Linked DNA regions of Homo sapiens: region 2 is linked to region 1. Evidence: fine-mapped expression QTL. A gene starts in region 1. The other region holds a variant in brackets. All regions are shown on one strand. Distances are from middle to middle.

Region 1 (16,261 bases):
CCCACCGGGTGTGGTGGCTCACACCTGTAATCCCAGCACTTTGGGAGGCCGAGGCGGGTGGATCACGTGACCAAGAGATCGAGACCATCCTGGCCAACATGGTAAAACCCCGTCTCTACTAAAATACAAAAAATTAGCTGGGCGTGGTGGCATGCGCCTGTAATCCCAACTACTTGGGAGGCTGAGGCAGGAGAATCGCTTGAACCCAGGAGGCAGAGGTTGCAGTGAGCCGAGATTGTGCAACAGAGTGAGATTCTGTCTGTCTCAAAAAAAAAAAAAAAAAAAAAAGAAAGAAAGAAAAGAAAAGAAAAGAAAGCCCTTACCAGAATTAATATGGAATAAAGGAAGGAAGACAAAGAGACTATATCCAACTACAGAGACACGCTGCTTTGAGAAGGAAATTTTCTTCACCCCCTATCTAGAGATGCCTTGCTCTCCAGCTTCTAAACAAAAAAGTGAACAGAGGTAATGGAATTGGGAGGCTCGGACTAGAATGCTGTACCATCCAGAGAAAAGATGGCTGCTGAGCCCTTCCATGAGTGAAGAGCTGGTAGATGTTTAACAACTGATCTTCCAAAGGAGAGTGGGAGGAAGTGCCCAGATGTGTGGCATTTGCTGATCTTTGGGCTTTAAATATTCTGATTTCAGCCGGGCGCAGTGGCTCACACCTGTAATCCCAGCACTTTGGGAGGCCAGGTGGGCGGATCACCTGAGGTCAGGAGTTTGAGATCAGCCTGGCAAACATGGTGAAGCCCCGTCTCTACTAAAAATATAAAAAAATTAGCTGGGCATGGTAGCAGGTGCCTGTAATCCCAGCGACGTGGGAGGCTGGGGAGGGAGAATTGCTTGAACTCAGGTGGCGGAGGTTTCAGTGAGCTGAGATCATGCCATTGCACACCAGCCTGGGCAACAAGAGCAAAACTACATCTCAAAACAAAACAAAACAAAAGGCCGGGCGCGGTGGCTCACGCCTGTAGTCCCAGCACTTTGGGAAGCCAAGGCGGGTGGATCACCTGAGGTCGGGAGTTCAAGACCAGCCTGACCAACATGGAGAAACCTTGTCTCTACTAAAAATACAAAATTAGCCAGGCATGGTGGCACATGCCTGTAATCCCAGCTATGTGGGAGGCTACGGCAGGAGAATCACTTGAACCCAGTAGGCAGAGGTTACGGTGAGCCAACATTGTGCCATTGCACTCCAGCCTGCATAACAAGAGTGAAACTCCATCCCAAAAAAAAAAAAAAAAATTCTGATTTCAAGCTACCAACATTACATTACTGTTCATGGGAAGAGATGCACAGTAACACATAAGCACATCATTATATCATATTTCCGCCAGATGGATACAACAGGCAAAAATAACCTCAAGAGCACAAATACAGGCTGGGCGCGGTGGCTCATGCCTGTAATCCGAGCACTTTGGGAGGCCGAGGCGGGCAGATCACGAGGCTCGGCGGGCAGATCACGAGGTCAGATTGAGACCATCCTGGCTAACATGGTGAAACCCCATCTCTACTAAAAATACAAAAAATTAGCCAGGTGTGGTGACGGGTGCCTGTAGTCCCGGCTACTCGGGAGGCTGAGGCAGGAGAATGGCGTGAACCCAGGAGGCGGAGCTTGCAGTGAGCCGAGATCGCGCCACTGGACTCCAGCCTGGGCAACAGAGTGAGACTCTGTCTCCAAAAAAAAAAAAAAAAAAAAGCACAAATACAATAAAATGTAATAATTAGGAAGTTATACATTTTGAATATATGTTACCCACTTTTAGTCTAATATATTTAATTATAAGTTTATGTAATTTAATTGTAAGTAACAGTGTAACAGTTGTGTTTAACAACCTGTTTGCAAAATTCCTGAAAATTTGACAACTGGCTTGTGCAAATCGGCACAAGGCAGCTCCGGCACAGCACTGCCTCCCACACACAGGCCTACCTGATGACATGATTAATGATGATAGGTTCTGGTGGCATAAGCAAGGCATGGAGCCGCTGAGGGATCTCTGAAAACTTCATACGTTGAGACTCAAAGATCTGTAGCAAAGGGGAGAAGCACGAGGTTAGCAGTTTGAGCATAACTAGTGTTCTAATGGATTCTAGCAAAAGAATGGGTCCATTACTTACCTGCTGCAGGTACTTGTCACAGATGACAAACTCCCGCTCGTGAGGGTCCTGGAGCTTATGTGTCTTAATATATTGCCACAGTGCTTGGATGATCACTGGACGAGTCTGGGTATGGATGCCCAGGAGTCGAGCTAGGCGGGGGTCTAATTTAAACTGGGGAGGCTGCAGGGAACCAAAGTATAGGGGATGAAGCTAGTTAGCTGCGTCTATATGCAGCAATACATTCAAGCTATTCAACAAATAATGTAGTGCTTTTTCTGGGACAGAAAAATTCTAGGAAGAACTCAGAGATGACTAAGACTCTATCTCTGTGCCAAAGTGGCAAATTATTCACAACTAGACATAAACTCTTTAAAGTGAGACTGCTGACGGTATGTGGCTGTGAAAGCTGGACCCCCTCACACCACCACAGAATACCTGGTAATCCAGCATCAGTAGGACAGTACACCGTACATTCACGTCTCCCGGCCGCTTCACCTGAAAGCCATCGGTCTCCTGGGTAGTGGCGGTCCTGTGCCACTACAGAGAGGAAGATGTCAGGGGGTGCTCTCCCAGAGGAAGAGCTGGGGTGGGAGGGAAGAGCTTCTGTAATGACTGAATATTCAACTTTGATTACTGAGGCTACTGGAGAAGAGTAATAGCATGAGGCATTTTAAAAAACTGCATATGGCTTTGGGATTACTGTCTGTGTATAAGTAGATTAACCTTTTAATTGTTTGTGGTTGATTTAAATAAGCCTCAATGTCCAGTGATAATTTTATCCACAAAATGGATAATACACATGTGAACAGTAACATAGCTATCATTTACTGAGTACTTACTATGTGTGACAGTATTCTAAGACATTTACCTGGATTATCTCACTTCCCGAACATCTATACAAGATAGGCACAATTATACTTATTTTACAGATGAGAAAACTAATGCTCAGCATAATAAAGTAACTTGCCTAGGTCAAACAGCCAGTAAGTGGCGGAGCCACCATTTGAGCTCTGATGTGTCTGATTCTACAGTCCACATTCTTAGCCACTATACTCTACTGCTATAAAATTAAATATATTTACAAGTTTCTATTGATTCTATGACTTACTTCCCTTATTAGATGGTAAAGACCTCCCCATGTCTCTTAGTGGTTGAGGTTAAGGGGCTGCAGCTACACTGGCAAAGAAAGGAGCAGGTTAGGTTCACTTGGAGTGCTGGCTGGACTGTCATTCTGGTTTTGCCTGTTTCCCAAAGAATACTGTTGCTAACATGGGCTTCAAAACGTTGTGCAATCAGGCATCATAATAAAGGATTTTTGGTGAATTGGAATGTAAATGTAAACAGAGCAGAGACCAAGAGGAAGTCCCAGATCTATAATGGTAACCTTGGCAAGTACTAGTACCCTATCAGTCAATCACTCTAATTACAGCAACTGCTGCCAGGAAAAATGGATAACTACATCTCACCATTATTAACAAGCAAGATACAGAGATGGCCTGGCACATACAAGAGGCCACCAGTAGACTTTCCCTTGAAAGAGGTGGCAGTGACCAGGATAGTAACATTAAAAAGATGGGACAAGTTAGGTTACAAGAGCCCTTGGTCCTAACTAAACATGCTAGTGCCACCTAGAGGTCAATGTGCAAACTGTACACCTGGAGCGGTACTGTGTACACCTAGAGTGACTACTTTATACCTCCCCATCTCCTTAGACATTAAAATACGGCTCCCAAGTCCATCATCCTCCAATCAGAGTCAAAGCCTAGAAGGCAGAGCTACTCACTTCTACCAGATGGTTGTCTGGCCCATACAGGTCTTTGTCCAGTTCAATCACCAAGGACTTAAAAAAGGAAGAGAACTTCCTCTTTTGTTTAGTGGCATCATATTTGGACAAGGCTGACTAGAGGAGAGAAAATAAAAATCACATTAGGAAAGGCCAGAAGAAACTTCCCAAGACAAAATCCTATGAAAAAGGAACCCCAACAACAATGGAAAAAAACTCAAAAAATATCTTCTGAATATCTCTTAAGAGAGATAGGCAAAGTAGGCATCTGCAGGTATTAAACCAATCATAGTAGCAACAGAACCCTGAAGAAGCAGCCTAGAACACATAGAGGGTCACTGTTTTACCCATCTCATTTGCCCAAGGGAAATGAGGCAAGTTAAGCAAACCATTGCACATAACTAAGCGAGTTTGAACAGAGAAAAGTCTGACTCTAGAGGGGAAATGAATCACAGGCAATAAGCAGCCAGAACAAAAACAGCTTTATTTGGACAGAATGACACCACCAGCAGATGGACCGGACCTATATAGAGAAGGAGGCTCTGACACTGAGCCCTGGTTCTCCTGCAAAAGTGCATTCCAACTAGCTTGCCTGCGAGCAGCTAAAAATAAGAGCCAGAGAATGTAAGGGAATGAGAGAAAGGTGAGCTTCCCCGAGGAGCTTCTGGGGTGGGAAGTTTGGGGACTATCACCTGTCAGCTGATGCTCCCCAGGAAGCAACAAAGAGCCTGTCAAGAGAAATCTATCCTACTTAAACTGTGGGGTGCCTCCAGTGAAAGTTGAGAAGATGGAGATACCACAAGGACTCAGAGAGGAAACACAGCCTCAAATTAAGTGCAAACTCGATTAAAAAAAAAAAACTAAATAATCTACAGATATGGCTAAATCCAATGGCCAGCAGCACCAAGAGGAAGGTAAACCACAAATCAGATCCCAGGACAATAAGGTTCTCCATATGATACCAGTGAGGGCCAAAGGTGTGGGGGCAAACACAAAGGACCACTGTCTTTCAGTGCAGGGAACAGTGTCCCTCTCCTTACTGCTCCCAAAAGGAGCTGTGAGCACCAGTTAGGCTTCCTGCTGACCAGACAACACTGTTCATTCCCAGCAGCTCCCACCCTAGATGCCAACCATTGTGGACCTTGAACTCACATCCTCCAGGAGCCGTCCTTCTACCCGAAGCTCCCAGGAAGCCACCGTCCCTTCCCCATCCTCGGCATCTGACTTAGCCGGATTGAAAGTGTTAGAAATGAAAATTCGCAGCTTCCGTTTTTGCTGAGGAAGGCAGAAACAGGATTGATCGTGGGGCTTCAGTGGTCTGATGTTGAAGACAACGGTCTCCCCAAACCCCAAAATTACTCCTAACAGACTGGCTTACTGTCTACCCAGTCCCTTGGGTGGGTGGATGAAGATTCCATTTAGAAGAGGAGTACTGGCCATCAGCCTAAGTACAAGTGCATATAGTGGGATGCCAGGTGGACAAAGTCATGCAAGGTGCCAGGTTCCCAAGGTAGCAGAGCAGTTACAGCGAAAACATGGACAAGGGTATATTTGTAGTGCAAGAGACATCAAGAGCCCCTCCCCCTTTGCCATTCTGTTCTTATCCTCCTAATGTAATTCTCAGTTTGTAGGCGGAAGGGAGAGATGCAATTTAAATGCCAAGGAGAGTTGTGCTGTGCCTTTGATTTCTCATCCTAATTCTGCTGAAGGTTCCTGGGTCCTCTCCTTTGGCTCTCTGCCTAGTACTTTCCTGTGTTACCTTGATGGGACGTTTCAAGGCCTCTTGGATATCTAGCCGTTTCCTCATGATAGTCTGGTCCAGTTTCCTTTCAAAAGCCAAGAGATCCATATAGGCCTGGGATTCTGGTACCAGTTCACGAATCTTAGGAACAGAAAAATTAATTGAAATCTAGGATGATCATCTCTATACTCAAACTCACCACACTTTCCAGAAGACATATAGCCTGGACTCACCCTTTGAGGTAGAATTTTGTCAGCCATCTTCTTTTTCTTTGCACTGTTGGGAATAAATACTATTATCAGGTTGGGACAGAACTAGTCAGAACGTGAAAATAAGCTGTCAGCACGTCCATTTATAGTAATGTGAAGGGACTGCAAAGCTTCTCTCAAAGAACTACCACCACCACCACCACCACCAAGCATTCTCAAGGATGAGTTCTGTAGCACCATCTGCTGACACAGCACCACCACTTCTTGGTTCAGGTACTCCCACCACCTGTGTCCTCCCAGGCTCCCTCCCTCCCTCCCTCTGCCCCAGGATCATCTTACTTGTGGTTTCGATTTTGGACCGCCTGCTGCTGGACCTGCTGGATCTGCTGAGGGGCAGGTCTCTTGCGGGACTGATCCATCCCTGACTGGGCCAGGCCAGGTCGGACTGAAGGGTTCCCCCCATAGCCAGGGGGTCCCATGGAAGGTCCCTGAGGTGTCATTCGGCTGCCTGGCAACATACCTGGTCTCTACAGAGGGGAGAGGACCCAGAGATGTCATGGTTTCACCTGCTAAACCCCATCAAGAAAGAAAAGCAGGGAACGCCTGAGATCTTTGAATGAAGTAAGGTTTAGGGATGGAATGGAGGACAATGAGAGGAGAACCCTTTGCTCCAGTAGTGACTCCATAGAAAAACAGAGTCCAAAAGCTAAGCGAGAGCCAGATTATACTCAAATTCTCAGTCTATTTTGGATGGGACACATCGGACATCGCCAGTTCCACATTTACTCTGCTAGCTACTATCTCTTTAGAAGCTGACCTCAATTTGTCAGCTACACGTTCTGTGTTCCTCTGATCACTGGAGCTGCTCAAGCCCCTTTGCACTCCGGCCCTCATACAGGTATCCCTGGACCCACTTCACCCACCCAGGTTCTCTACCGACTCCCCAGGGAAACAATGCCCCTAGGAGCAGGTGTGTAACTGCCTCCCCCTCTCTTTCTGCGCACTGCCTCCCCCAACCCCCACCCAGAGCCCGAACCCCTCCCAAGGGAGTCCCTCCTACTTCTCCCCCCACCCCTGTCACTCCCATGTCCCCGCTCGGCCCCGCCCCCGGCCCGCGCGCCCCTCCTCCTGCCCCACTCACCGGATAGGCCGCTCCGGGCATCGGGGAGCGGTACAGCCCTTGACCCGGAGCCGGGCCCATTCGCACAGGAGGCCCCGGAGTTCCGCCCGGGCCCAAGGCAGCAGCCGCGCCCGCCCCTCCTGAGGCTCCGGCGCCGCCGCTTGGAGCCACAGACTGGAAACCCGCCCGGGCCGCCATCTTCCCGGAGCCGCCGATGCAGCCGCACAAAGAACCGGAACCGGAACTCCCCCCGCCCCCCGAGCGCCCCCCGAGCGCCCGCCTGTTCCCCCGGCCGGCCGGCCGGCACGGGAGGCTCAGGGCAGCGAGACTATGGGATAGAGCGGGGCGACTAGCGGAAAAGGCGTGCTGGCCACGCCCTCCCGCCTTCACGGTCCGGGAGGGAAAACCATAGAGAAGAGCTCTGCAATAGAGAGGCCGCGTGAGCGGGCGCCCCCAGGCCGACGGGAGGAAGACAAGGACCTGGAAAGGGGGACGGACCACAGCCTCAGCCCCAGTCTCAACCCCAACTCGAGCCCTCTGATGAAGAGGGGCTTGGAGTAATAGCTTCATCTTGGCGCATGGCGTTAACTTTCCAAAACGCTTTGACTGCTTTTCGTTTCGTTTTCTTACTGCTATAACTATCAGGGGCTGAGGAGGGAAACACAGTTTATTCCATTTTACAAATGGGAAAGCTGAACTCACAGGTGAATGACTTGGCAAAGGTCAACCAGCAAGTTAGCCATAAAGCCGAAGCCAAGATTCCAGATACCCTTGCTCATAGCCCGGGACTCATTCCACAGATAAAGTGCCTCAATAAGTACCTCACGTGGGAACTTCATCCTAACTTTCTCTCTGACCTAACCTGCTTCCGGATTATTATTTTTTATTTTTTATTTTTTTTTAGATGAGGTCTGTCTCTCTCTCGCCCAAGCTGGAGTGCAGTGGCACCATCTCAGCTCACTGCAACCTCCGCCTCCCAGGCTCAAGTGATCCTCCCAACTCAGCCTACCAAGTAGCTGGGACCACAGGCATGCACCACCATGCCAGACTGTTTTGTATTTTTGGTAGGGATGGGGTTTCGCCATGTTGCCCAGGTTGGTCTCGAACTCCTGAGCTCAAGCGATCTGTGCTCCTCAGCCTCCCAAAATGCTGGGATTACAGGTGTGAGCCATTGTGCCTGGCCTCAGATTTTTTTTTTTTTAAATATTAAAAAATAGGGATGGGGGGCTGGGCACGGTGGCTCATGCCTGTAATCCCAGCACTTGGGAGGCCCAGGCGGGTGGATCATGAGGTCAGGAGATCGAGACCATCCTGGCTAACACGGTGAAACCCCGTCTCTACTAAAAACACAAAAAAATTAGCCGGGCGTGGTGGCGGGCGCCTGTAGTCCCAGCTACTCGGGAGGCTGAGGCAGGGGAATGGTGTGAACCCGGGAGGCGGAGCTTGCAGTGAGCCGAGATCGCGCCACTGCACTCCAGCCTGGGCGACAGAGCGAGACTCCATCTCAAAAAAGAAAAAAAAAATAGGGATGGGGGTTTCACTATGTTGCATAGGCTGATCTCGAACTCCTGGCCGCAAGTGATCCACCTGTCTCAGCCTCCCAAAGTGTTGGGATTACGGGCATGAGCCACCGTGCCAGCCTGCTTCCAGATTTTATGATAAGTTCCAGTTTATCTTGAATTTTGACTCTGCTCTCTCTCTCTAAAGCATCCTTTGTATTGGGGATTCTGTTTTGGAACTTTGTTGCCTTTGACTTCTCCCTCTTTCCCTGCCCAGTGGTTCAAACTATTCCTGATATAATGGTCAGCCTGTCCCATCCCAGGGGGACCACAGTGTCCCTACTCAAACCTTCTCCTTACTCATCCCCTAATTGGCCCCAAACCAAGCTCAGCTTTAGGCACTTAGTGAGAATATCTAAATACTTTTTCAAATAAGAGAACAACACTGAAGAGGAGATGGTTGAAACCCAGTTTATTAGACCAGAGGCATGCGTCACCCAGAGCCCTGCCTGCTGTTCCCCTATCCAATGCACACTTTTTGGCCTCATTCCTGCTTCCCTCTGGGGAGGTATGATCTCTGAGGAAACTCTTAGGAACCAAGAGATTCCAAAGATCCTACAGCCTTACTCTCCAGCTCCAGGCCAATGCAGCTGCTCACAGGTCCTGTTCTGGGATTGAAGACCAAGACACAGCTAGGGAAGGAAGGCCTGAAGAGGGGTTGGGGCTCAGGCCTGGAAGGAGTGTCTGGTGGAGGGAGGGGGGGCAGGCCCTCCACCTCACTTGTCTCTCATTAAGATAGGGTGAGACAACAGCAGAGCTTTCAACTCCTCCTCTAGGCCTCTCTTTCCTCCCAAACCCACCTCACCAGAAAATAAAAGTGGTGGGCTTGGGTATCAGGTGAGGAAAGGGGGCTGGGCACCCAGAAGGAGGAAAGGCCACTGACTGAGGACCTCAGCTTCTGCCTGTCAGCATCCCACTGCCCCAACTTCAGGAGTCGCCAATCCCCAGCTCCCTTCTGTCTCTGACACACTTGGCTTAGTGTCCAGGGTAGACCTCCATCCCCTGGGTGGGGGCTATCTCTACAGCAACCCCTTCCCTGGGGATGCCACTGTCAGCTGGGCAGAGGGCAATGGGATAGGAGGAGCAGGGGAAGAGAATGTTAAGGCTGCAGGGAGGGCCGAGGGTGCCCGGGTTGGGGGAGAGGGTGAGGCCAGAAAGAGGCAGAGCTTGTGATTCACAGCTTCCTTTGTCGCCACTGAGACAGTGCAAAGGTTACAATGCGCGTGTCGTCTCCTTGTGCTTCTCAGAGGGATGTGTGTACACAGTACAGACACCAGGGGAGAGAGTCCAACTCTTTATACAGGCGAAGGCATTCAGAGACCAGGGAGGGAGTAGAAACATAGAAGGTGGAACTTGGGGTGGGAGAATGGTTCTCAGAGACAAGAGGGGATGGGGTGGAGACAGACAGGGCTGGGAAAGTATATACAGAGATATAGCAATATAGAGTCTGTATCATATAGAAATAGAAAATGCAGATGAGGTTGTTGAGAGAAGCAAATGAAGTTGGGGAAGAGGATGTGGGAGAGTTCCATAAGAAAATTTATGGACGTGGCCCTCTACAAGGGCCTCCGGGAGAGGGACCAGTGAGGTTAGGCACTAGCGCCCTTCTCCCTGAGCTGGACGCTAACCAGCCCGGTCTTTAATGGGATGGTGAGGAAGGGCTGCCTCTTGGGATTTCTCTCCAGCAGCTGTGGGGTGGGGGTGAACTTATAGGTATCAGGATGTAGCCTACAGCACCAGGGCCGCATCTTGTCCCCATTACCACTTCTTAAGGGGATCCCCGACCCCCACGAGATTCCACATGGTGTGAGAGAGTGGGGCTGAGGTTTTAGTTCCTGCCAGGAGACTTGGGTTTGGGGACAGTCACTGGGCTGAGAGGGTCTCTTAAGGCTGGGGAAGCCTCCCTCCCCCACACTAGCCCTCCCCCTTAAGGTACATTCTCTGGTTTGGGGCCAAATTCCAGACCCCAGAGATCCCTTCCACCCCTCACTGGGAAGGGCCTTTGGTGACTGGTGGCAGCAGAATGTAGATGGACACTCAGATGGCAGACAGCTAGATAGACAGAATTCAGGCTGGGAGCTAGGGGAGGCAGCATGGAGGAGAGAGGGGCAGCCTGAGGTCCCTTGCCCCGTTCTCCCTTTTTAGTTCTTTTTTAGATTAGTTTTGTTAAATGTAAAAAGAATGGGATAGAGGCAGAGAGAGGACTCTATGGTCAAGACTCCTTCCTTACCACAGACAAGAGGAAAGATCTGCCCCGGAGTGTGGGGAGTCCCCAGGGCAGATGTGAGGAGGCAGCTGGGGGCCCCCTCGCTCTCCTAGTCCTCCCCATCTAGGCCTTTGGTTCAGCGGCCTGCGGGGCTCAGCAGGTAAAGTCCTCGAACGTGCCTCGGGCCGGATGGTGAGGTAGGATGTTGGCAGCGTATGTCATCCCGGCAGGGTGGCCCCGAAGGCTCTCGCACGGGTTCTGGGGGAAGGGGACAGGACAGGGACGGGTTATCCCTCGGAAGGGCTTCAGGTAGTGCTGGGGCATTCGGGAGGCAAAGGAGAGAAGGTGGTGGCAGAGGCGGGTGGGCGGGGGTGGACGGGGTTCCTGGGGCGGTGGAGGCACAGGCGGGCTGGAGGGCGCCCTCGCTCGCTCCCTCACGTGTCTTTTGACGTCGTCCAGGCTGAGGGCCACGCCCTTGTCCGCACTGCTCCTTTTGGCCTCCTTCTGGCATTTTCCTCGTCGGCACAGCTTGTGCTTAATGACCTAGGACGGGGACGGGGCAGGTGGGCGGGCTGGACCCCGCCCCCACGTGGCCCCGTGCCGGGCCTCGCCCCCGCTTACCTCGTAGGCGTAGTCAAAGAGCTCCAGCACCGTGAGGATGCTGGCCCCGATGAACAGCCCCATCTGGCCCCCGATGTCACCTGCGGGGGCAGGCGCCAGGGGGGTCAGTGGGGTCAGGACATCGTGGGGGCAGCAGGGTTTACTGGGACTGGGGCAGGCAAGTTGTATTCTCAAAGGGATTGGTAGCCTTCGCACAGAAGGATCGCAAAGCCAGATTCAGGTGGAATTTTTGTTTTCTTCTCTATGCTTTTCTGCGTTTTTCTACCTTTCTAAAACAAGCAGGTGTTTTTCAAGAAAAATAATCGTTTACAAAATACCACAACCCTCTTAGTTTAGGGGCATATGAAATAGTCTCCACTTCCATGCCTACCCCTCCCTCATGCCCACAGGCCTGTCTTTTCTCTTTTCCACTTTGCCCTAAGAGAAGGCTCAGTTCCCTTCCCTCACCACTTACCAAGACAACAGGGTTTGGGGAAGGGCCTCTGGGGTGGAGGACCCTCATGGGACAGAAGTGAGCACCCTGCTTTTGGATGATAGGGAGCCACGCCATGCCCATGGCATGAGAAGGGGACAGGTGTCATCAGCAGCTCACCCAGGAGCCCTGCAATCTCATAGGCCTTCTTCTGTTCAATGGTCTCATAGTTGAGGACTTCAAAGAAAATGTCCAGCACCAGGATGTTCTCCCTGCACAGGGATTGGGGGAGGAGACCTAGGTTCAAGTCATATCTCTATCTCTTACTAACCAGGTGACCTTGGCAAGGCAGCCTCTCTGAATCTCAGTTTCCATATCCATAAAATGAGATGCTGATGGAGATACCTGCCTTTTAGGATTAAATGAGATGGCATATATGAAAAAATGTTCTGTACCATATGCAGTATGCATCAAGTATAAAGTGACTCCGGTTACAACAATGAGGATGAAGAAGGAGGAGAAAGGGGTGCTTCCCTGCTTATTCTGGCTTGATCTTCCCTGCATACCCACCCTAGACTCTTTGCTTGCCTTTTGGACCTTCCCCGTGTTATCTCAAGTTCCCCCTGCCTGCCAGCCCCCGCCCCCATCAAACCCCACTCATCCATTCCACAGTCCCAACCCAAGGGCCTTGCTCTACCCAGCCAGAGCCCTTACCCTATGTATTGCTCAGATTTGTTGAACTTCTTGGCCAGGTACTTGGCTGAGGCTTTGCTGGGGATCTTGACCATGGACAGCTCTTTGCCATAGCGGGTCAGGTTGCAAGGCATTTCACACACGCAGTACTCCTGGTCCTTCTCCACCAGGAAGTCTGCACTCAGCCAGGTGAGAGGTCTCAGTTGAGTGGTGCCCTTCTGCCAGCACCTTCCCACATGCACATCCTAGCTCTGCCCAGAGAAACTCTGGGCCCCTTTCTCTTTCCGTGACCTGCCCTTCACCCTGCCTGGATGCTAAACTCTGCCAACATCCTACCTCACCATCCAGCCTGAGGCATGTTTGAGGACTTTACCTGCTGAACCCTGCAGGCCACTGAACCAACGATGTAGATGGAGAGAACTAGGAGAGTGAGGAGAACCCCAGCTGCCCCCTCACAGCTGTGTCTACCATGTGCTAATTCTCACCAAGCCTCCCCATGGATATTTCTTACTCTTATATCTCACTTCCTCAGGACCCTCCAGGGTCAACCAGCTGAGGGGCTGATGAAAGAAGATGAAGGCCATTCCCAGGTGACCTCTGTTCATTTTTCATAGGGGCCTCTGAAGATGCTATTCTCAACTTTATTGATTATTATTATTATTCTCAGACAGGGTCTTGCTCTGTCACCCAGGCTGGAGTGCAGTGGTGCAATCTCGGCTCACTGCAACCTCACCTCCCCGGTTCAAGGAATTCTCCCACCTCAGCCTCCAGAGTAGCTGGGACTAGAGGCACATGCCACCATGCCCACATAATTTTTTTTTAATTTTTCATAGAGTCAGGGTTTCACCATGAAACCAGGCTGGTCTCGAACTCCTGGGCTCAAGCAATTTGCCCACCTCAGCCTCCCAAAGTGCTGGGATTACAGGTGTAAGCCACCATGACTGACCATTCTCAGCTTTAATGTCAGACACAAGAGAGGGTGCAGCCCAGTCCAGGAGTTATGTGAGGCTTCTGGGAGCGTGACCTGAAACTCCTGCGCACGTGGCTGGCAGCACCTTTTCCCTCCCCCAGACTGCCCCAGGCCAGGGGCGCTCACCCAGAGCAGGATCTGCACACTCCTTGTACTGCTCTGGAGTACAGTATGGGGCATCCCCTACAGAGGAGAAAAGACAATGATGCAGGATGGGAATTCAAGGGGTCTGGTGATGGTGGTAGTACCAAAGGCCTAGAAGGTGTAAGCTGGGAGAAGATGGGAAGGGAGGACTGGCAGGCCCCCATGCTGCCCCAGAAGTGACCCACTCCAGGTCCATACCTTCTAGACCCTTCCCACCCATCCCTGGGGGTGCAGGCGGGAACTGAGGTCAGAGAGACATGAGCCAGGTGGGTGTGGGATGGGGTGGGCTGGAACTGGGGTTGGGAGATTGATATGGATGGGGAGCTAGTGAAGGGCAGCAAAGGCCCAGGGACCCCAGGAGTATGCTCGGAGCCCCAGGCCTGACCTGGCATGTGCACCATGCGGCAGTTGCAGTTCTCCACCAGGTAGCGCGTCTCACAGTCGATGCGGCAGGCAGTGATGCTGTAGGAGTCGAAGAAATCCAAATCCGAGTCCATGGTAACAGCTTTGCAGGTGCCCCAGGGTGGGGGCAGGTAGATGAGCTGCTGGGAGAGCCGGGGAGCTGGGGGAGTGCGGGGACTTCTCCCCAAATCAGCTTGATGGACTCCTCTGACAAGATGCAGATCTCTGGAGTTCTGCTCCCCTCTCCCTCTGCAGCCTCCAAAGGTCTCAGAGTTTACAGAGCATTCTTGTTCATTCGATCACTCATGCTTCTGACTAGCCAGATTACCACCCAGGTCCTTGCTCACCTGTCCTTCCCATTACTGATTGCCCACCACTCCATCTGGACCCCTCAATACCCCACCCCAGGACCAGCCTCCCATGGCCCTCTCACCCGCTGCTCCTGGCAGGCCACAAAGGTCTGGAAGCCTGGGGCCACGCCAAAGCCCAGCTGGTCGATGAAAGGAGGTTCATCCTGACTATGGATCTGCACTTTGATGCCTGCTTCGAAGGACGTCTCGTCTAGGGGAATGAGGAGTGTGTGGGTTGGGAGGGCTCCTGACTCCCTAACACCCCTCAGACCTGGGGGCATCCTACCTCTCCTGGAAATAAGCATAGGGTGCACTGGGGCTGGGGTGGGGGAAGTCTATAGGGTCCTAGCCCACCCCCTAGCCTCCTTCTGGGTTTACCAGCTCTGAGCTGCTCCGATGACCCCTGTATCCTACACACTTCTTTTCTTACCTGGCTTCTGCTCTGCATCTTGATGTTTCAAATACTTTCTCCCAGAGTGTCACTGTTTCAGATGCTCTCCATTTCTCCCACTCCCTTTTTCCCTTTTCCCCCATCTCTCTCTGCCCCAAGGCCCCCCGAGACCAGACAGGCAGGCAGCCCGAGAAGAGAGGGAGTTATTTATAGAGTGGCGGCGGCGTTGATGGAAGAGGATGGCTGGTTACCTTGGAGAGTAACTGAACCAGGAAGTGGGAGCCAGAGAGATGTGAGTGTGGAAGTCAGGTAGAGTCAGTGATAGAGATGGTGAGATGCTGGAGGGAGAGGGGAAAGCCCGGGCCCTGCCCAGGTCTCACAGTGAAGCCCAGGAATCCCCTGGCAGAGGCTGGGGCCTAGAGCCATGCAGAGGGGCCCCTGAAGTGGGTGACGTACCAGTCTCCCCCCACACAGGCAGGTACTCGTCCTGCTGGATGTCCAGCATGATTTCCAGCCCATTGCCCGTCCCACCCTTCATGGTCTTCAGCCGCGGCCGCCCATCTCGGCCCGAGTTGAACGTGTAGCACTTTCCATAGCGTGTGAAGACCTGGCGAGGGCAGAGTGGAGAGCCTAAGAGTCCTGCCAGCACCCTCTACTCACCAAGGGCTGTTCCTAGCCACCCCAGCTGTTGGAATCTCAACACCCTTTGGGAATGGTTCCTCCCGTGCAGCCCATTCTCCATTTGCTCCCCTCTCCCACCTGTTTCTCACCCTTTCTTGCCCTCTGTGTGCCCTGGAAAACTGTTCCTGGTAGGGTGCATCGCCTGAGCTCCTTTGCCACCTGCATGGGCTTCTAGTTGGGGTTGACAGTTGGGAGGTATTGGTAATGGCTCAGAAGGCAGGAGGAAAGATTGGGGTATGAATCCTTCCCCAGCCCTCGCCCCTCTGTAGCTCTAGTAGTGCCTTAGGCCCTCCATGATTACAGATCCTGCCAGGGCTCCCTACAGAGCACTGTCTTCTTTTGTGCTTCTTCAGCCTAGAAGTGATAACGATTTCCTAGTACTGCTCACTGCCTCAGTCCCCCTTATTGGTTTCCTTAACCCTGCCCCCAGCTCTGTCAGCAGTCCCTTTGTTAAAGTCTTCAATTAAATCATCAAGTAGCTGTCTTTTTCCTGCCAGGACCCTGACATATACATTTTCATCACCAGGATCCTAACACGGCCCCTCCTTGGGACACTTTCCTCAGGCCCAAGCTCCTGAGGCCCTCCAAGACATATCTTCTCTTCTCCTAGATTTCACTCTGGGAATCTGAAATTCTGCTTTCCCCAAGACCCAAACTCAGTTTTTTTTTTTTGGGATGGAGTCTTGCTCTGTTGCCCAGGCTGGAGTGCAGTGGTGCGATCTCAGCTCACTGCAACTTCCGCCTCCTGGGCTCAAGTGATTCTCCTGCCTCAGCCTCCCAAGTAGCTGGGATTACAAGTGCACAACATCACACCCGGCTAATTTTTGTATTTTTAGTAGAGATGGGGTTTCACCCTGTTGGCCAGGCTGGTCTCAA
Region 2 (16,261 bases), 970 kb before region 1:
AAGTGAAAAACTGTGTTGGGGGGGAGACACTACTCCTACTTATCTTGCTCATAAAGCCTTTTCTGGTGGGATATTAAGGCCCTGGTGTCTTACAGAAACCATCACGTATGTCGCAGCAGCATTTCACCCCTGAAGTCTCTAAACTCTGAGCCTGAAAAGATTTGTATTTAATACACATAACATTTTTTAGTTCATTCTGCCTTTCCTATTTGTTCCAGTTTTTGCTTGGTTTTAGTTTGGAGGGGAACTTAAGTACACAGATCCTTATCTCTCCCCATCCCCTAGCCTCACAAAACACAGTTGAGAGTCTTTTAAGTACCTGAGCTCTCGAAGCTACCCAGAACTGAACTAGACTCCCCTACCTTAGACTGGTACCCTCAAACACAGGACTGAAGCTTAATTGGGAATTTGGCTTTATGGAGAAAAGAATCTTTTTCAAAGTTTGTGTCGGAAGGGGAGGGTGAGGTTTGCCCACTGTCTCTGCAGGAAGGCTCCGGCTTAATCTAGGAAGTAGATTCCAGCTGCACGATGAGGAACACATTAGCTTTTGGGATCAAACCAGGAATATGAATCTGTAATTATTAAGCTCATTGCCAACCCACAAGATATGTTTCTGAAAACCTGTAGTTTCTTAATTTAAGTCCATCCCCTTCATTAACGCTACAGTTGTGACTCACACTGATCCCAAACTTTTAAGTGCTAAATATTAACATTTAGCATTAACTGTCTTGTCAAGCGAAAGGCCTTCTCTACAACCTAGTCCATCTCACTTCTGGTGCTACCTGAGTTGGACAGAATTCTAGCTCATGGTTGCTAGGAAAGCTAGGCCTCTGATCATAGAAGCAGATAGCTTCAGTCCCAGTCTAGGCCTAGATAAATGACTCTTATTACCACAACCCTTATTATTTTCCAATTTCCTTTCTCACATACTGTACACAGGTAGTATTTTCAATGTGAATCCAAAGCTTGTCTGGTTCTCTGAAAATAATTTTTTCCCCTTTAGGTTCTTTACATTGTGATAATGCTGTATTTAAAGAGAATATTTAAATGTAATATTAAAGAAATATTCAAAAGAATGATGTGTTACTCTTTGTCTCGGCAGGCCACAGTTCAGTTACTTGTTAGAAAAAGGATGCTTCTCTAGCTTCGTTATAAAACTAATTAGGTCAGTTAGGAATTAATGTTAACAATAGAAACATTTTGTGATGGAAAAATAGAATATTCTCTTTGGAGTACCAAGAGCTGGACTTGGTTCATATGCCCTTGTGTACCTGTTCAGCTGAAGCAGGCCTTGCTCCTGCTCTGTTGGAGCTTAGCCCTGTCCCTACTCTGGGCTCCCATTTTCTCATTCCATTAACTTTTTTTTTTTTTTTTTTTTTGAGACAGAATCTCATTCTGTCGCCCAGACTGGAGTGCAGTGTCGTAATCTCGGCTCACTGCAAGCTCCGCCTCCCGGGTTCACGCCATTCTCCTGCCTCAGCCTCCTGAGTAGCTGGGACTACAGGCGCCCACCACCACGCCTGGCTAATTTTTTGCTATTTTAGTTGAGACGGGGTTTCACCGTGTTAGCCAGGATGGTCTTGATCTCCTGACCTTGTGATCCGCTCGCCTCAGCCTCCCAAAGTGCTGGGATTACAGGCGTGAGCCGCCGCGCCCGGCCTCATTCCATTAACTTTATGAAATTCTCTTTTCCTTGTTATCACCTTAAAGTGTCCAGCAAGGAGATCAACTTCAAATCAGTTTCTGCAAAACTTCCATCCCATCAGAAGGTTCTATGCCAACCAATTAAATCCCCATTTGTTAGATTATGTCAGTCTTGTAAAAGGAGACAGCAAAATGATTAGAGTATGCATAAGTCATTTCCATCAACAGGTTTCAAGCAGTCTTTACTTGGGTTTAAAAACAGTGCTTCATGCATTTACAATAAGTTATTACAGAACTCTAAGTCACTGATGCACACACAAAAGCTAAACCCAACTTACTAACTATGCAGACCTCTCCTGATCTCCCCAGGCTGGGCAGTAATTAGTACCTTACAGGTGTGATCCATGGCCCAGAGAAGGCAGCCACTGTCAGTTACAGTTGGACTGCTGCATCACAGTGGAGGCAGCAGAGTTGAAGATCCACAGAGGGCTGTAATACAGCCCAGAAAAGACAATGGAGAGTGAAGGCTAGAAACATTGAGGAAGGGGTCAAGAAGCACTTGTACTTCCTGTTATCTTTTCCAATAGAATATTCCTGCAAGTTACCCATCAGAAAAAGGTGTTCAGAGGGTTTGAAAAAGAAGTGGTTAGCCCATGCCAGTGAAGGTGACAAAAAACAAAACAACTTGATTTTTGGTCATATCAGAAAGGATGGAGGGAAACACCCAAGTACATGCACGGACACATGTGCTCCAGCCAAAGGAGTGCTGTTTTCACCAGCCACAAATTTTCTAACAGCAACAACAAAAACCCACAGATGTAAGTAACATGGAAGTGGATCAGTCCTAAGCCAAATAAGGATTCCCACCTGGGGCAAAAGCTGACTTCCTAGGACATGAACTGAACACATCACAGTAAAAGCCCAGTAGAGGCTGCTGCCAGTTCCAGCTATTAGTAATTATGAGGGGGACAGGATGACACCTCACACGGACCACCCCTAGCAAGAGGGTTTGTTTCAGTTCTAGCTGTGAGAGGAATGTCTGCAGTTCCCACATGTGTGCCATGCTGTGAAGCCCATGGCCCCTGCTCCTCTCTCTGCCTCCCACACACTTAACAGTACACACAGACTTTGCTGGCAAGTGCTGTTTGTTCCTGCACTGCTATACTATACGACTGCAGGACAATGCCATCCGCTCCATGGTTCATTCAGCGCCTTGTCCCAAGGTAGTTGGTGGAGAGCAGGACCACGTTGTGCAGCAAGAGAGACAGCTCAGCTTCTGAAAACACAGTGTTAGTGGTTTGGCTTGGGAACACTGCCTTATAACTGCCTTGTTATATATGGCTTAAGCCTGGAGGCAGGAAGCCAAGTGCAGGGAGGGGTGGAATGAAGAAGCTGTTTTTCTCAAAGTTCCCCTTCTTTGTTTCAGCCCCTGTATGCATGCCTTCCTTTCCTTCTACTATATATTCGTATCAACTCATCCTCTATTTCTCATGTGATTGCAGTAGAAAATTCAGAGATGGTAATGGTACTAAACACCAGTCGCGTTGGGATTCTTCTGGTAGAAGTTGGTGCTCTAGGGACATTTCTCAGCTTCAAGATTAGTAGGCCTACCCTAACATCCAAAGGCCCACAAAACATCAAGACCTAGCCTAAACAGGGGGCAAACAAGCCTAATACATACCCTCAGATGCTTTGTGTTTGGTCAGCAGACTGTTTTTTTTCTGAGTTTGAATGCCTTTAGACCAGTACTTCTCAACGGGGACAATCCTGCCTCTCTCCTCCCCACCCCTAGGACATTTGGCAATGTCTAGAGACATTTTTGGTTGAGACAACTGTGGGTGAAGGGGTGCTACTGGCATCTAGTGGGTAGAGGCTAGGGATACTGCTATAATAAATACCTATAAAGAACAGGATAGGCTGGACATGGTGGCTCACGCCAGTGATCCCAAAACTTTGGGAGGCCGAGGCCAGCGGATCACCTGAGGTCGGGAGTTCGAGATCAGCCTGACCAACATGGAGAAACCTGGTCTCTACTAAAAAAAAATACGAAATTAGCTGGGCGTGGTGGTGCATGCCTGTAATCCCAGCTACTTGGGAGGCTGAGACAGGAGAATCACTTGAACCCAGGAGGCAGAGGTTACGGTGAGCCGAGATCGCACCATTGCACTCCAGCCTGGGCAACAAGAGCGAAACCCCGTCTCAAAATAAATAAATAAATAAATAAATAAAGCACAGGATATTCCCCCCATAAGGAAGTGCCAAGGTTGGAAAATTCACACTAGCATGCATTCACTCTTAGGTTTCCACAGTCCCCACTACTCCCTCTTGTCTTATGGCCTACTTCGTTACCTGCCGGGCATGCAGTAGGCATGTGAGTTTGTGCCCTTTCAATTAGATGTATGTATATATATGTCTCACAGTACTCAATAATTAACTCCAAAATGACCTCAGAATAAAATACAAAAGTGACTTGGATTTTAGTGGTATAACCACAGAAATGTGTTTTACCTTTCAGGCTGCAGGAAATCTGCAGCCATTCTCCCAGCCAAGTTCGACACCTATCTTCACCAATATGCGTAGAATTCAGGCCACGGAGATAACAAGCCTATACCACTCAGAACAGAAATGGTCCTTAATAATCATAGAATGATTATGCCAAGGAAATGGAAATCCACAAACAATCCTAAATCTCCTTTAAATAAGTTACAATCTCACCGGGCACGGTGGCTCGTGCCTGTAATCCCAGCACTTTGGGAGGCCGAGGTAGGCGGATCACGAGGTCAGGAGTTGGAGACCAGCCTGGCCAATATGGTGAAACACCATCTCTACTAAAAAATACAAAAATTAGCCAGGCGTGGTGGCATGCACCTGCAGTCCCAGCTACTCGGGAGGCTGAGGCAGGAGAATCACTGGAACCTGGGAGGCGGAGGTTGCAGTGAGCCAAGATCATGCCACTGCACTCCAGCCTGGGCAACAGAGCGAGACTCTGTCTCAAAAAAAAAAAAAAAAGTTACAATCTCATTCCCACATGAAGCCTTTCCTCATGGCAATTTGAAAACTAGTGATGGACAAGATGACAAAAGCAAAGAGTCCTATATAAGCTAAAATAGTAGGTCTAAACTGCAGTATCCTTGCTTTCTGAAGTGCCAGAAGAAAAGAAATACAAACCAAAATTTCTGTGGGCAATTCCTTCCCCCTAGCTAAGTTTCTTGAGAAAAAAGACACAGAAATGAGGTGAGGAGCTGGGCGCAGTGGCTCATGCCTGTAATCCCAACACTTTGAAAGGCCAAGGCGGGAGGATCACTTGAGCC[C/G]AGGAGTTCAAGACCAGCCTGGGCAACATAGTGAGACCCTGTCTCTACAAAAATAAAAAATAATTTTATTTTATTTTTTGGGTTTTTTTTGAGACAGAGTCTCACTCTATCACCCAGGCTGGAGTGCAGTGGTGCGATCTTGGCTCACTGCAATCCACCTCCTGGGTTCAAGCAATTCTCATGTCTCAGCCTCCCAAGTACCTGGGATTACAGGCATGTGCCACCACTCCTGGCTAATTAAAAAATAATTTTTAAAAAGGCCGGGCACAGTGGTTCACGGCTGTATTCCCAGCACTTTAGGAGGCCAAGATGGGAGGATTGCTTGAGGCCAGGAGTTCAAGACCAGCTTGGTTAAAATAGTGAGACTGAAAAATAAATAAATATGCTGGGTGCGGTAGCTCACACCTGTAGTCTCGGCACTTTGGGTTGATGGATCTCTTGAGGCCAGGGGTTTGAGATCAGCCTGGCAAACATGGTGAAACCATCTCTACTAAAAATACAAAAAATTAGCTGGGCGTGGTGGTGCACACCTGTAATCCAGCTACTTGGGAGGCTGAGGTAGGAGGATCACTTGAACCGGGAGGCAGAGGTTGCAGTGAGCCAAGACTGTGCCACTGTACTCTAGCCTGGGCAACAGAATGAGACTCTGTCTCAAAATAAATAAATAAATAAAAATAAATCATAAATAAATAAATGAAGTGAGAGAATAAAGAAGCTGGGTTCTATAAACAAACAAGACAAGGAGCCCCTGTAAACCTCCGGCCTGCCATAGGCTCAAAAGCACACCAAGGGTTGAGGGTTGATGTTGCAATCAAGCTCTTACCGATTTTACTTCCTGAGCAGTCAGCTGGCCAATCCCCAGCTTTGCCAAAGCCTTGTCCAGTTGGTGAATCACAGTTGTATGAGTCTTCAAACGATGTCTCAACAAGGGAGGAGGCAGGTAAGATGTGAGAAGCATGGCCCGGCTCAAGGCTTTCTGTAACACAACCACATAGGAGGGGAAAGGCAAATAGTATGAGCTCAAGCAAACACCTGAAACATGGTGATGCTATGGAAAAGAGAAGCCCTCAAAGTGCTCACCACGTGCAAAGCCTGGAGTTGGTTCATGCCCAGAGGATGGTTAGAGAAACACTCTCTCAGAGCCAAGATATCATGTATTGCTGGGTGGGTACCACGCTGTATCTTGGAAGAGGTAAGAGATTTGTAGATGTTAGGAAAGTCCTGACTACTCCTCTTACCTAGTTTAGTGCACACTGAATCTAACAAGATTCCACATTTGTAGGAAGGGTTAACTGCAGGAATACCTTGGTGCACAGATCTGTCAGACGCCACCGGAGTCCTGCATCAGAAATGAGAGGGATGACCTTTTCTAAATAACTAATAATTTCTGGGTGGGACTGCTTCCGGAAAGCATGATAGATATCTAAGAAATCAGTTTGTTGTTTTGGGGTCCAGAAATGCCTGATCAGTAGTTGCCTGGGAAACAGGTACCTGAAAGGAGAAAGAATCACAAACTCACTTGCTGAAACTGGCTTCTTTCAGAGGAAGCCAAAGAAAGCATTTGGTAGACATGAATACTAGGAAGAAGAGATGGAGACACTATTTCCCTACCTCAGTGTTCTTTTTCTTTTTCAGTTTTTTTTTTTTTTTTTTTTTTTTTAAGAGACAGGGTCCCCTCTCTCACCCAGGCTGGAGTACAGTGGCAAGATCACAGCTCACTGCAGCCTCGACCTCCTAGGCTCAAGCAATCCTCCCACCACAGCCTACTGAGTAGCTGGGACTACAGGCACAGGCCACTATGCCTGGCTAAGTTTTTAATTTTTTTGCAGAGACGGGTCTTGCTATATTGCCCAGGGTGGTCTCAAACTCCTGGTCTCAAGCAATCTTCCTGCTTCAGTCTCCCCAAGTGCTGGGATTACTGGTGAGAGCCACTACAGTCAGCCCTTTCTCTTAAGTGACTCTCAGACCAAAGTTTATAAGACACACTGAAGCACAATTTCAAGCACCATTACTGAAATGGGATGTGAAAGGAAGGACTAGCAGAATAGCCTGCCACGCAGCAATCAGATATAATGACTCATTTTGAACTAAAGCATGTGAAGAGCATGCTTTGGAGAGAGTTGCAGCCTGACCAGGACACTATATGTGATGTTGACAATCTAACTATAGCACAGTCCTTATGTGGACCCAGTATGTAAAAGGCAACTGATTTGTTGTTTTTTTTTTGAGACAGAGTCTCGCTCTGTCACCCAAGCTGGACTGCAGTGGCGCGATCTCGGCTCACTGCAACCTCTGCCTCCTGGGTTCATGCGATTCTACTGCCTCAGCCTCCCAAGTAGCTGGGATTACAGGCACCCGCCACCACGCCTAGCTAGTATTTTGTATTTTTAGTAGAGACAGGGTTTCACTGTGTTAGCCAGGATGGTCTCAATCTCCTGACCTTGTGATCTGCCCGCCTCGGCCTCCCAAAGTGCTGGGATTACAGGCGTGAGCCACTGCACCTGGCCACGATTTGTTTTTTAATTTATTTATCTACGTGTTTGGTGGTTTTAAAACATGACCTCAAATTCTCTGGCACTTGTCTCATGGAGAGCTGAGGTCTACATCCTGCCCTTTTTTCATTCTAGGTGACTGATTCAATCAATAGGACAGAGCAGCAGTGACTCTATGTGACCTTCAAGACAAGGTTATAAAGTCATGTAGATTCTTACTAGAACCCCTCACTCTTGGAGCCCTGAGCTCCCAAGTTAGAAGTCCCACTATCTTGAGGCTGCCATACTGAAGAAGCCACATCTGGGCACTCTGGTTGACAGTTCTAGCCGTGTAGCCATCCCTGCCAGGGCACCAGACATAAGAGTGATATTGGACTTTCCAGACTAGTCCATTCAGCAGCTAAATATCACTAAGGGACCTCTGTCAACCCTATATGGAAGAGAGAAATCAACTGCCCACCTGAGCACTGCCCTAATTCTTGAGCTACAAAATCATGAAAATGATTTATACGATTGTTTTATGCTATTAAGCTTTGAAGTTATTTGTTATACAGCAATAGATAATGAATGACATGCAAGATCACAGTTAAGAAATGTCATTTTTGGATATGAAGTAATAAAAATGTTATCAGAATACGAAATGTACTTTTCCTAAAGAAATTAGTCTAAAAGTACTCTCTCTCGGGGAGAGAGCCTCTAGGGATGATGGAGAAGGTCACTATCTTATTTCACATGACTCAGGGCAGCTAAGAGATAGGGAGAGTCTAGGCCACCTACACTTATAGCTGTGATGTGTCACAGTAACCAAGGTCTTCCTAAGTGGTTTTTATGAACCTTGGAATAATGAGAAGATTGGAGCAGAAGTTTGATAACCTCTGCCTATCTTCTGAAATGAGTGCTGTTTAAAGTAATTCTTAATTTAAAAAAATTGATACATCTTCAAGATGTTGGGGAGATGGAAGTCTGTACTCACATTAGCAAGAAGACCAGGTAGTTGGCAAAAGGTGGAATGGAAATAATACCTAGGAAAAGACACTTGGTGACGTCTTGGCGGAACTAAGCAGAAATAAACACAGATGCAGTTTTAACCCAAATAAGTTGTTAATACAATAGACAATCCATCCACCCCACTGTACAGTAAACTTCTATTACAGCCCAGAAAAAGGACCAAATTTCTTTCTTTTTCTTTTTGAGATGGAGTCTTGCTCTGTCACCTAGGCTGGAGTGCAGTGGTGCAATCCTAGCTCACTGCAACCTCTGCCTCCTGGGTTCAAGTGATCCTCCTGCCTCAGCCACCCGAGTAGCTGGGATTATTGGCATAAGCCGCCACTCTAGGCTAACTTTTGTATTTTTAGTCGAGACAGGGTTTCACCATGTTGGACAAGCTGGTATCAATCTCCTGACCTCCAGTGATCTGCCCGCCTTGGCTTCCCAAAGTGCTAGGATTACAGGCATGAGCACTGCATGTGGTCCCCAAGTTTATTTCTATTTACTTCTGGATGGTTAGTTCCTTGAGGACAAAACCTCTGACTTATTTACTTTTGTATCCCAAATAATGTCTAGTACAGAGCCTGACATTATACCAAATCCTTCAGTGAACTCTTCCTGATCTGCGGAATGGGTCCTAGATTCTTACTCTCAGCTTCAAAACGACCCATCAAGTCACCACCAAATACTACTTTCATGCTGCCCTTTGGATCCTTGCAGACTTTTTTTTTTTTGAGACAGAGTTTTGCTCTTATCACCCAGGCTGGAGTGCAGTGGCGCGATCTTCACTCACTGCAACCTCCGCCTCCCAGGTTCAAGCAATTCTCCTGCCTCAGCCTCCCGAGTAGCTGGGACTAGGACTACAGGCGCCTGCCATCATGCCCAGCTAATTTTTGAATTTTTAGTAGAGATGGGGTTTCACCATGTTGGCCAGGCTGGTCTCAAGCTCCTGACCTCAGGTGATCCGCCCACCTCAGTCTCCCAAAATGCTGAGATTATAGGCGAGAGCCACTGTGCCTGGCTGCCCTTGCAGACTTCTATTTTCATTTTATTATTATTTTTTTTTGAGATGGAGTCTTGCCCTGTCACCCAGGCTGGAGTGCAATGGCATGATTTTGGCTCACTGCAACCTCTGCCTCCCGGGTTCAAACGATTCTCCTGCCTCAGCCTCCCGAGTAGCTGGGATTACAGGCGCCCGCCACCACACTCAGCTAATTTTTGTATTTTCAGTAGAGATGGGGTTTGACCTTGTGGGCCAGGCTGGTCTCGAATTCCTGACTTCGTGATCTGCCTGCCTCGGCTTCCCAAAGTGCTGGGATTACAGGCGTGAGCCACCGCGCCCAGCCCCCTTGCAGACTTTTGTTATGTTCAGAAACTAATTAGATTTTAGTATTTACAACTTTCATTCAGAAAGTGTGCCAGAAATTCTATGGAGCTCTTGCTATGGAGGGCTACAACTCTGGATGAACCCAATTCTTACAAATAATCTGATGCCTCATTCAGTTCAATATTTTGTTCTCACGGCAAAGGGCAAAAGCTTGATCAATGGTGAACAACAAATGAAAGAAAAAACCTTGAGATCTTGATTAAATGTAATTACCTCACCATGAACTTCTGGATATCTGCCCCTGGCCCATACCTGTCTCAAATGCTCCATCTCCCGGTATGGAAGTTGATGAAACTTTATATTGTGCTTCCACATATTTGTCTTTATTCTTCTAGCCTTTTTGGCATCAGCCCATAACATCTGCAATCCTGCCTCATTAAAGTAGAGGACAGAGTGTGATGTTATCCCAGTTTAAATCTTAACCACAGCTTCCTACTCCATGTTCAATCACATGCAAACACTCTCACCCCTCCCCAACGATACTCAAAGCTTTAAACTAGGTAACTTGAAACTCCTGAGGTCAACTCGAATCTCTTTTCTCAACATTTTTTCCCCTAGCACATCGCCTCTCTTCTAGCTACATTTGGCTTCTGTAATCTGCTATGGAATGGTCTCCCTCTTCTGTTTCACTGGTCACTCCTTTTTAAAAATCAAGCTCCCTAACTTCAGAAAGTCTTGCTAAATTAACCCTATGTATTCCCCAGCCAGATATTAATTTAATCTCCTTTCTGGAACTTTTTTTTTCTTTTTTTTGAGATGGAATCTCACTTTGTTGCCCAGGCTGGAGTGCAGTGGTGCGATTTCGGCTGACTGCAACCTCCACCTCCCAGGTTTATATAATTCTCCCACCTCAGAATCCCAAGTAGCTAGGATTACAGGCGTGTGCCACCATGCCTGGCTAATTTTTGCATTTTTAGTAGAGATGGGGTTTCACCATGTGGACAGGCTCGTCTTTAACTCCTGACCTCAAGCAATCCACCTGCCTCGGCCTCCCAAAGTGCTGGGATTACAGGCATGAGTCACTGCGCCCGGCCTGGAACACTTATTTTTGTTTTTGAGATGGAGTTTTGCTCTGTCGCCCAGGCTGGAGTGCAGTGGCGCAATCTCGGCTCACTGCAACGTCCACCTCCTGAGTTCAAGCAATTCTCCTGCCTCAGCCTTCCGAGTAGCTGGGATTATAGGTGCCCATCACCACACCTGGCTAATTTTTGTATTTTTAATAGAGACTGGGTTTCACCATGTTGGCCAGGCTGGTCTCAAACTCCTGACCTCATGATCCGCCCGCCTTGGCCTCCCAAAGTGCTAGGATTACAGGCGTGAGCCACCGTGCCCAGCCTGGAACACTTTTTAAAGTAGTTTAGTTCAATATATTTTTATGATTACATTTTAAATTTTCATTTTATGAAAATTCTTGCATCTAATTTTTTTCTTTTCTTTTTTTTTTTGAGATGGGAGTTTCACTGTTGTTGCCCAGGCTGGAGTGCAATGGTGCGATCTTGGCTCACCACAACCTCCGTCTCCCAGGTTCAAGAGATTCTCCTGCCTCAGCCTCCCTAGTAGCTGGGATTACAGGCATGTGCCACTATACCTGGCTGATTTTGTATTTTTAGTAGAGACGGTGCTTCTCTATGTTGGTCAGGCTGGTCTCAAACGCCCGACCTCAGATGATCCGCCCGCCCCGGCCTCCCAAAGTGCTGGGGTTACAGGCATGAGCCACCGCGCCCGGCTTCTTGCATCTATTTCTTTAATGCTTTCATATTTATCAATGATTTACATGTCATTATATGATGTCTCGATTGTCTTCAAAATAATACATAAGGCAAGTATATAAATAGGATTGGCAGCCATGAGTTATGATAATGAAGTGAGGTTAATACATGGAAGTTTGTTACACTACTCTCTCTACATCTGTGTGTGTTTAAAAATTTCCATAATAGTTGGCCGGGCGCGGTGGCTCAAGCCTGTAATCCCAGCACTTTGGGAAGCCGAGGCAGGCGGATCACGAGGTCAGGAGTTAGAGACCAGCCTGGCCAATATGGTGAAACCCCACCTCTACTAAAAATAAAAAAATTAGCCTGGTGTGGTGGCAGGCGCCTGTATTCCCAGCTACTTGGGAGGCTAAGGCAGGAGAATTGCTTGAATCCGGGAAGCAGAGGTTGCAGTGAACCGAGATCATGCCATTGCACTCCAGCCTGGGCGACACGGTGAGACTCAAAAAAAAAAAAAATTCATAATAAAAAGTTTAAAAACAAACACAAATGCTTTCATCCCTTTCTCTCATTTGATCCTATTTATCTACATGAAAACAGAAAAAGCAGCCAATTTTATCTCTACAAATTAAGGATAAGTAATTTTTCAAGTCCATGAAGCTAGTAATAATTATGATAATGTTCAGATTTGACAATGTAGTTTATTATAGTGTTATGATAAAAGCATAGAGCATATTATAGATTTGGTGCAAAAGCAATTGTGGTTTTTGCCACTGAAAGCCAAAAGCCGCAATTACTTTTGCACCAACTTATAATACTGTTAGGTAACATTTAGATGAAAATAAGTTAACATTTACTTGGCACTTACTAGGGATCAGGACCTGTTCTAGGTACTTTACATGTATCAATTTTTAAAGTCTTCACAATCATGTGATAAATAGGTAGGTTCCATTACTCCCATTTTACACATAAGAAAACCAAGGAAAGAGGGGTTAATTAATTAGTCCAATCGCACAGTGACGAACTGGGATTTGAATCAGGCAATCTGGCTCCAGAGTAGACACTTGACACGATACATATCTTCTCCTAGTAACTAAGGATCTCTGATTTGAAACAAAACATTTAGAAACCAAGTATTATGTAGGGCTATTGCCACTACAACATACTACCTAATATAGATTCATAACAAGGGTTAGACCTCATTTTCCTATGGGTAAGTCAACTGATACATCACAGGGCAGGTCTATACAGCCACAGATCCCTGCCGTGTGCAAGGCAAAAAATTTCTACTATAGCCAGGTGTGTGGTTAAGAAAGTACGAGAACATACCTATATTCTCCCTCCCTCATGTTGCTGTCATAAGTTGTTTCTCATAACATCTTTCTAGAAACATTCTCAAGAAGTGCTAATTTATAGGAATTAGTTTAAGGCGCAGGCATTTATGAAATATAAGATATCTCGGCTCACATCCCCATAGCAGAACCTGCAAATGATCTTATTTATGCTAACTCTTTGACCCTGCCCAAGAGCTGATTCCGGAATTTCTATTGTAGTTTCGTTTTTACCTTTCATGAAGATTGTGTACAGGACATAGAAGCGGGGGAAATGACGACCCAAGAAACGATGGTATTTCCCATTAATCGCTTTTGTCTTGGTTACCACATAAGACATCAAGTTCTTCACATCTGCCTTTGGAGAAAGGTGAAGCTTTGAAGACCTACAAGGAAGATCAAAGAGACTATCTGGGAATCAGTCCTAGAAGCTCCCTCACGCCTTGAGTCCCTAATGTAAAGCAGGAGTCTCGGAGATTGTATCCCAAGGCTTGACACTTCTGAAATCCAAGGAAGGTCTTGGGGTCAAGAAGAGATAGGCAATCAGACTGTGAAACACAAATCAGGCAAAGGCCAGGCAGGAAAGTAACTCAGGGTATGCCTCTGGAGAGAGCGCAATGCCTGTGGGACAATTTGAACTGCAGGCTAAGTCAGAAAGAGGTGGAATCGAGATAGCAGCGGTAAAACCTGAGCCGAAAAAGTGAGGCTGAAAGATGAGCTCAGGACACGCGGGGAAACCAGACAATATGGGGCACTGAGAGTACAGAGGGTCAGGAAGCCGGGTCACTAGTGGGGATCGGAGTTTGAATCCTGAACAGAAGAATAAAAATTCCAGGGCCAAGGCGTGGAACTCTGAGAATTAAGAGACAGAATGCAAGCAAGGTTGAGACACTGAAAGAGCCTGGACGTCAAAAATGCTTTTCTCGCTACAGGTCCCTCACCGAGGGGCCCCCCAAGCCAGGCCAGAGCGACCAAGTTGCAGCCTCCGGGTGACAAAATGTCCAGGGGTGACTGCCGAGCCCCACACAGCCGACCGAGCCCAGCACACCCTGGAGAGCGCCATCTTCACAGCGAGAGAAGCGGGAGAGAAGAGGTTGTCTTTGGGTCAAAGTTAACCGTACGTCGCGTTCGTTCGAAGACGCATGCGTCTTTTCTGAGCGCTGATTGGTAGCCATAGCCTGCTTGGCTCCAGCACAAGCCAGGAGAGGGAAGGACTCAAAGACTAAGTGCGGAAGGAGGGCCAGGATTGGACACAGCAGTACTTCCAGGTTTAAAGGCGCCGGAAACAGGGTGTCCCAGAGGGAGCGAGTTCTTATGCCACTGGTGTGGGTTTGCGACGCGGAGGGCACCCTGTCCTTGAGGCGCCCAGTGACCCTCCGCGATTCCTTAGGGCCTCAGGGCTTCCCAGCGCCGCCCTTGCCCTCTGCCTGGACTCGGGGCGTCGGAGCCTCGACTGTTAGGTAGCAGATGTCAGTTTGCCAGTGCCTGGGGCTAGGAGGACCCGCGGCGCCCTCTAATGGTGCCGGCGTGGATAGGCCGGGAACTGTCCACTTTCCAGTCAGTCTGGCGGCGAAGGTTGGAGGCCTGGGAGCGGCCCCTGTGCGGACTGAGTACACTTTTTCCTCTCTTTGTCGTTTCCAGAACTAAGTTTGTGGGAAAATGGTTTTCGTTAAGCACCTACCGAAGACCAAGCTCTGTCTCAACTTAAATGTTACTATTCTGAGAGGATTTCTGTGACCACCCTATCTGAAGCAGTGCCGGCGAAAAGGACACACTTCACACTTATTCTCATGTTACTCTGTTTTGTTTTGTTTTGTTGTTTTGTTTTTGTGACAGTTTTGCTCTGTCGCCCCGGCTGGAGTGCAGTGGCGCGATCTTGGCTCACTGCAGCCTCCGCCTCCCGGGTTCAAGCGATTCTCCTGCCTCAGCCTCCCGAGTATCTGGGATTACAGGCGTCCGCCACCACGCCCGGCTAATTTTTGTATTTTTAGTAGAGACGGGATCTCACTATGTTGGTCAGGCTGGTCTTCAACTCCTGGCCTCAAGTGATCCGCCAGCCTTGGCCTCCCAAAGTGCTGGGATTACAGGCGTGAGCCACTGCACCCGGCCTTGTATTTTCTTTGTAGCATCTGTCACTTACAGTGTTTATGTATTTGTGTCCTTGTTTGACAGCTCCCTGAACTAGAATGAGGGTAAGCATCTTCTCTGCCTTGTTCATTGCTGCACCTCCAACACTAGGTGCCTTACTTAGCACATAGTAGGTGTTCAGTAAACATGTTTGAATAGATTCATACTTGAAACTAAGAAGGATTCCCAGAAGTGGTACTTAACTGCCTCCAAGAATTAACAGTCCTCTTGGATATATATGAATATTTATTCTTCATGGAAGGTGGTAGAGCATCCCATGTGGGTTCCCTGGATATAGGTTCAATCTTGGCATTGACGTTTGTTTTAGTGAATGTTACCTTGGATATGTCACTTTAGCTCTGAGTTTATTTCCCTTATAATAGTACCTACTTTATAAGAAATCTTTGAGGATCCAAAGAGAATACAGCTGTGAAAGCTCCCACATCTGTATAATGCTTTATGGGTCACAGAGCTTTATATTAGCACAGGTTATTAATGACTGTACCACTCGTGCAGTCAGAGGAAAAGTTTTAAAAGATGGCCCTGGATCTTCACAAGTGTTGGGTAGATGGGGTGGACGGGATAGAAAGTTGACTAAGACGGCTGGGCGCCGTGGCTCATGCCTGTAATCCCAGCACTTTGGGAGGCCGAAGCGGGCTGATTACCCGAGGTCAGGAGTTCGAGACCAGCCTGGACAACATGGTGAAACCTCATCTCTACTAAGAATACAAAAATTAGCCGGATGTGGTGGTGGGCGCCTGTAATCCCAGCTACTCGGGAGGCTGAGGCAGGAGAATCGCTTTAACCCAGGAGGCGGAGGTTGAGGTGAGCCAAGATCGCACCACTGCACTCCAGCCTGGGCAACAGAGTGAGACTGTCTCAAAAAAAAAAAAAAAAAAAAAAAAGTTGACTAAGACATGGTCTTCATATTCAGGTAGTTTTTTTTTTTGTTTTTTTTTTTTTTGGAGACAGAGTCTCACTCTGTCACCCAGGCTGGAGTGCAGTGGCGCAATTTCAGCTCACTGCAACCTTCATCTCCCGGATTCAAGTGATTCTCCTGCCTCAGCCTCCCAAGTAGCTGGGTTTACAGGCGCCCGCCACCATGCCCAGACAACTTTTGTATTCTTTTTTTTTTTTTTTGACACGGAGTCTCGCTCTGTTGCCCAGGCTGGAGTGCAGTGGCGCAATCTCGGCTCACTGCAACTTCCGCCTCCCGGATTCACACCATTCTCCTGCATCAGCCTCCCGAGTAGCTGGGACTGCAGGTGCCCAC

The links. PIP is the estimated chance that this variant, and not a neighbour inherited with it, causes the effect. A credible set is the group of variants that fine-mapping cannot tell apart.
Region 2: its variant is the best candidate, but not a certain one, in a credible set for the expression of SMARCD1 in whole blood (TOPMed, PIP 0.57).

Annotation. Positions count from the first base shown.
Region 1 is chr12:50,076,263-50,092,523 of GRCh38, reverse strand. SMARCD1 (SWI/SNF related BAF chromatin remodeling complex subunit D1) reads right to left here and starts at 7,182. Exons shown (of 13, transcript NM_003076.5): 1 at 6,978-7,182; 2 at 6,176-6,363; 3 at 5,861-5,903; 4 at 5,646-5,768; 5 at 5,039-5,161; 6 at 3,887-4,003; 7 at 2,539-2,640; 8 at 2,122-2,283; 9 at 1,934-2,031. The coding sequence starts at 7,154. It overlaps ASIC1 (acid sensing ion channel subunit 1), which reads right to left. Exons shown (of 12, transcript NM_001095.4): 4 at 15,161-15,311; 5 at 14,397-14,524; 6 at 13,947-14,103; 7 at 13,544-13,600; 8 at 12,469-12,622; 9 at 11,935-12,026; 10 at 11,343-11,422; 11 at 11,160-11,264; 12 at 8,913-10,979. The coding sequence ends at 10,875. RefSeq lists enhancers at 5,759-6,490, 7,340-7,599, 7,957-8,689 and silencers at 6,830-7,269, 11,267-11,436.
Region 2 is chr12:51,046,020-51,062,280 of GRCh38, reverse strand. It overlaps LETMD1 (LETM1 domain containing 1), which reads right to left and starts at 13,954. Exons shown (of 9, transcript NM_015416.5): 1 at 13,803-13,954; 2 at 13,096-13,247; 3 at 10,074-10,189; 4 at 8,421-8,503; 5 at 6,260-6,446; 6 at 6,036-6,137; 7 at 5,779-5,931; 8 at 4,153-4,249; 9 at 1,857-2,920. The coding sequence starts at 13,924. The coding sequence ends at 2,850. CSRNP2 (cysteine and serine rich nuclear protein 2) reads left to right here. Exons shown (of 5, transcript NM_030809.3): 5 at 1-1,076. RefSeq lists enhancers at 13,171-13,709, 13,910-13,959, 13,710-14,248, 14,070-14,339, 14,430-14,509 and 1 more. The variant C/G (reference allele first, on the strand shown) is at 4,956.